Linked DNA regions of Homo sapiens: region 1 is linked to region 2. Evidence: fine-mapped expression QTL. Tissue or cell type: unexposed skin. Region 2 holds a variant in brackets; the other region holds the start of a gene. All regions are shown on one strand. Distances are from middle to middle.

Region 1 (2,500 bases), 42 kb after region 2:
TCCCCAGCCACAAGTTCCTTTGATGCTTGGGTTACTGAACACAAACGCAATGGATTGTTTGTCTTCAACATAATCCGTTTCTGTTCCTAAACGTGTTGGCTGCGCTTTCTTTCTGATGAGCACGCTGACTCTAATTTGAACTTCATCAAAATCTTCTTTGTCGTCGTATGTTCTAGAGTATAAGAAAAGCCAATACGGCCCTTGGTTCGGACATCAACTTTCTTTTAAATTTTTTTTTCGTATTTTTAGTAGAGACGGTGTTTCACTATGTTGGCCAGGCTGGTCTCGAATTCCTGACCTCGTGATCTGCCCGCCTTGGCCTCCCAAAGTGCTGGGATTACAGGCATGAGCCACCGTGCCCGGCCCGGACACCAACTTTCATACCTAGATGCTCAGACTTATCTTTAAGAAGTTGTTTTATCTTGCTTACTGCTAAAGGTGTCTGGGTGAGGGTGGCCCGAGTGGTCTGCAGCTTCCTCTTGCTCACAGGCCGGGGGACTAAGGAAGGCGACATCTTCACTGTCCTCCTGGACTAGCTCCAGCCCCAGGAACTACGGCCTCTCTCCGTGCACACGGCACGCGAATTCATGAACTTGCTTTTAAACCTGCACAAGAGTCTTTCTGATCATTAGTTCTTAAAATTCTACATTACCATGGAAATATCACGGAGGCTCTAAGGCTCCCCTTAAAGTGACCAAAAAACTGGATAGGCGTAGCGTCCTAAAACCTCATAGAAACATACGGAAATGGCTAAGAGGGAAGCAATGTCAAAACAGGGAACCACATAAAAGCTTTCAAAAACTACTGGGAAAGAGCCCGCAAGATGGAAAAACTCATAAGAGGTCGAGGACAATTTACACAATTTATAACAAAGGAATGGAGCGTCCCAGGCACTCAGGAGTCCGTAAATGACTCCTCCTTCCTACGAGAAATGGGATGTCTCCTACAGTCGCAAGTCAGCCCGTGCCTTCTGGAGCTTTTCTAGATACGTCTCTTACAAACGCTTCTTTTAAAAAAAAAGGCGAGAATGTGTGGCGTAGCTAATATTCTGTCTTCAAACTCAGTAGGAAGTCAACAAAGAAAAATCCCGCTGAAAGCGCCAAGGCCGGCTGGGTTCCCCGCACCTCCTGCAGGTGAGTGGTGCCCGGGGCTGGGCACCGTGGAGCGTCGGGGGCGCGGCGCCCCGGGCCGGCGGGCCCTGCTTGGCATTATGTAATCACCCCCGGGCCGGGCAGCCGGGCCAACCCCGCCGCCGCCGACCCGCTCCACTGCACAGCGCGGCGGGAGCGACACGCGGCAGGCGAGTGCGGCTGGGAAACGACCCGCGGCTCGGGGGCCGCGAGGACCCGGCCCTGGCCTGGCCTCTCCTCGCGTCCCCTGGCCCGCGCCCCCGCTCCCGGAGCGCCCGGCGGGCCCAGCGCACCCCACAACCGGCAAGCAGGTGAGACCGACACCCACCACCGCGCGGCGCCCGGGGCCTGGGTTCGGAGACCCGCGCGGCGCTCCCGCGCCCCCCCGGCCCGCCGCACTCACTGTTGTACTGCACCCCCTTGGCGAAGCGCCTCTGCAACGCCTGGTTCATGGACTGCAGCCCGGCGGGGATGTTCTTGTCCCGGCCCGGGGCCTGGTCCGACCCCACCAGCTTCTTCAGGGCGGAAAACATCTTCCCGCTCGGACGTCCCAGCCCGGGCGCGGCCGGCGAGCTCAGCGGCGGCGGGGAAGGGGTGCGACTGGCACCATGTCCCGGCGGCCCCGGCCCCCCCGGAGGCCGGAGCCGGCGCGGCCAGAGGCCGGGGTCCCGGCGGCGGAGCGCAGCCCCGAGCGGCGACTCGGGAACCTCAGCCGCGGCTGCTCCGCTCCGGCCCCCGCGGCCTCCGGCGCGACCGCTCTCCAGGAGTCAGCGCCGCCATCTTGGCGCCGGCTCGGCGGGACGGGAGGGGTGCGCGGCTACGGGGCGCCGCGAGGGCCGCGGGGGCGCGGCGCGCGCGGTCGGCGCATGCGCACGCGGTTCTGGCGCGCAGTTCCGGGCCCGGGCTGCCTCCTTACGCAGAACCTCCCCCGATCCTGCGTGTCCCGTGCTCCTCTCCGAGACCCCGGTCGCCCCAGCGTCCGCAGCAGTCCTGGAAAAATGTTTATTTGTGTAGCAAAGCAGGGAGCGGGGCGGCGGGGCTACTTCTTCTTTTTCTTGGCCGCCTTGAGCTTCCCCTCGATTAGCCGCTGCGCCTGCCTCTTGATCTCGGCGCGCGAAGGGACGTAGCTGTGGTCCATGTCGGGGAACTGGAAGGTGTCTGCGGGCGGAGGCGGCGGCTCGCACACGGGGCTAGCCCAGCTAGGCGCAGCCGCCCGACCCGCCTCTCGCCCCCGCCCTCCACCGACCCGGGCCAGGTGCCTTGCCCCAGGGACAGCCCCAGCGTGCCGGGAGGACTCAGCCCAGCCCATTCGCAGCGGCTCACGCTGCCCTGCCTAGCCTTTCCCGCAGAACCCCCAGTGGAAGCTCCGG
Region 2 (2,500 bases):
CCCATGGGGCTGGTCATGGAAGGAGCCTGCAGGTCACGGAAGGAGCCTCAGGGCAGACAGGACACTGGGGAGCCCTGGGATGGGCTCATAGGAGGGAGCACTGGTGGGCGCCCCAGGTCTTGGCCAGCCCGAGGGACCAGGCCCTGACTCCTCTCGCAAGGGCTTGCCAGACCTCCTCCAAGATGCCCTGGAGGACGATGGCCGTGGGAAGAGCAGTCAGGCCATCAGCGGGCCCCTTTATCAGACCCCAAAGGGCTGAGTGTGCACCGCCACTCCCTGGGGCCACTCCTGTGTTCCCCCACCCACCTGCTTTAGTTAGGGTCTGGGGGCCCCCGGAGGTGGTGACGCAGGGTGCAGGAAGCCAAGGACAGAGTTCAGAAGCCGGCAGGTGTGGCAACACGTTTAATTCTGTGGCCAGGCTAGCCTGTCTCCAAGGCCTGGTGGACAGCACGTCACCAGAGGCTGCCGCAGGAGCAGGCAGGGCCAGCCCTGCAAGAGGAGTGCAGGCAAAGGCGGGGGCTCTGAAGTGGCTGCTGGAGGCAGCAGGCCCCGGGCTGGGAGTGCTCAGTAGCCGTCGTTAGCCCAGGTGACCTCGTAGTCGGGGTACTTGGCTTTGATTTTCTCAGTTGAAATGGCGTGCTGGGCAGGACCATAGGCCTGGAGAAGAGAAGACGCCTGCTGGCACTACCTGGACCCTTCAACCCGATACCCGGCTCTGGGCATCCAGCCACCAGCCACACCAGAAGCGAGTGTGGGAAAGGGATAGGCAGTGCCTGGGGATGCCAAACCCACCATCCCGACCGCCCTTGGGGGCTCCCCTGGGGAGAGGCGACCTCCACAGGCAAGCAAACCTTGATGGTGGATCCTGGGGCCTGAGGCGCCCAGAGGGACGCACGTGGGTCTCATCTGCTGGTGGTTTTTGTGAAGAGCACAGGTGGGGACTCTGAGCTCCACCCAGGTACTGACTGCCTCTGGGGGCCCAGGGCCCAAAGTGCTGGAGGACAGCTAGAGCCCAGCAAGGCCTCCCAAGGCAGGGAGAGGAGACAGCCGGCCATGTCTGGGGGTGTCCGTCCCACCCCTCAGGTCTGGCGTGTGCTCCATGGGGGAATGCAGGAACACAATGGGCCCTGGAGGGAGGGCTCTGCCGCCGACCCTGGGAGAACCCCAGGAAGCCTGCGTGCTCAGCTGGGG[C/A]CACGGGTCAGGGCAGCAGGCTCAGGTGGGCCTCGAAGCTGGTACTGGGGCCTCCGGCAGGGCGGGACGGGGCTGCGGCTCACCATGGAATAGCCGTACACGTGAATCTTCTTGTCCTGACTCTGGTGGGAGATGCGCCCGCCGCCCAGACACTCACAGTCGCAGCCTTGCTTCTGCATGTCGCCCGACACTTTGTCGTAGATGTCCGCTGGGATGGGAGGGCGGCCTCAGGACGTGCCCTGGCCGCCCTTGGAGGCCGCGGGAGGAACTCCCAGCCGAAGGGGTCTGAAATCCCAGCTCTGAACAGCCCCTTCCCCAGGAGAGACGAAGCCCCTTGAGGCTGGGACAGGGATGAATGAGCGAAGGAGGGTGGAACCGGGGAGGGCGCGGGAACTGGGAGACTGCTGGGGAGGGTGTCAGGCCGTGTCACGCCCTTCCCGCCCAGGACCTCAGCCTGGGTCAAACCTAGCAGGGGCAGGACTCGGAGCAGAGCGCAGTCCGCTACGGCCCGCAGCCCCGCCCCCGCCCCGCCAGCCCCGCCCCTGCCTCGTCAGCCCCGTCTCCGTCCCGCCAGCCCCGCCCCCGCCTCGCCAGGCGTGCCCCTGGCATGCCCGCAGGTCCCGCCCTCACCATGGTACTCAGCCCACTTGTAGCCGCGCACGATCTCCTTGCTCTCTGCAGCCGGAGCCCCGGAGCGGGGAGCCGAGTGGACTCGGATCAGCACATACTTGAAGACGCCGTCGGAGTCGATGTCCACATCAGGAATGAGAGCGAGGTCCGCCACCGCCATGTTCCTCCTCCCGGAGTCCCCTCCTCCCACCCGACCCGGGGGCCGCTTGTACTGCGGGAGGCGGGCTCTGCGAGAGCGACGACCAATCCCGTCGGGGAATGCTTCCCAAGGCCCAGCGCCTCAGCCAATTGTACCGCCGACCGAGGCACGTGCTGACCAATCGCAATCCAGTTCCTTGCCGCCTTGCGGCTCCGCCAGCCCCGCTTAAAGGAAACGTGGAATCGGGAATGGGTGGTGATGAAATCCAGCCAACGGAGAAGTTCCTCTCCAGCGGGGTCCGGTGGCACCCTTGGAACGGGGCAGTTAGGCGGCCCGCGAGGCTGGGGCAACGAGGGAGGCCTGAGGGACTTGCCAGCCCTGACCTCCTGTCCCGCACGTAGTCCGAAGACCACCCTCCCCGTGGCCCCCACCGCCCAAAGGCCTCCCTCTCTCCCCCTCCCACCGCCCGAAGGCCTCCCCCCTCCCCGCTCTCCACCGCCCGAAGGCCTCGCTCTCCACCCCCTCCACCGCCCGAAGGAC

Evidence for each region. PIP is the estimated chance that this variant, and not a neighbour inherited with it, causes the effect.
Region 1: CCDC183-AS1 starts here. The variant in region 2 is fine-mapped to the expression of CCDC183-AS1 in unexposed skin (GTEx, PIP 0.95).

What each region holds. Positions count from the first base shown.
Region 1 is chr9:136,807,360-136,809,859 of GRCh38, reverse strand. It overlaps CCDC183-AS1 (CCDC183 antisense RNA 1), which reads left to right and starts at 1,012. Exons shown (of 5, transcript NR_024580.1): 1 at 1,012-1,133. It overlaps CCDC183 (coiled-coil domain containing 183), which reads right to left. Exons shown (of 14, transcript NM_001039374.5): 14 at 2,119-2,288. The coding sequence ends at 2,170. It overlaps RABL6 (RAB, member RAS oncogene family like 6), which reads right to left and starts at 1,912. Exons shown (of 15, transcript NM_024718.5): 1 at 1,534-1,912. The coding sequence starts at 1,663. It also overlaps the pseudogene LOC100422233. RefSeq lists silencers at 1,101-1,630, 1,641-1,770, 1,791-1,850, 1,901-2,070, 2,271-2,500 and enhancers at 1,776-2,372, 2,373-2,500.
Region 2 is chr9:136,848,912-136,851,411 of GRCh38, reverse strand. It overlaps PHPT1 (phosphohistidine phosphatase 1), which reads right to left and starts at 2,003. Exons shown (of 3, transcript NM_014172.6): 1 at 1,822-2,003; 2 at 1,275-1,399; 3 at 388-657. The coding sequence starts at 1,981. The coding sequence ends at 565. RefSeq lists silencers at 1,682-1,761, 2,152-2,211, 2,392-2,471 and an enhancer at 1,752-2,031. The variant C/A (reference allele first, on the strand shown) is at 1,192.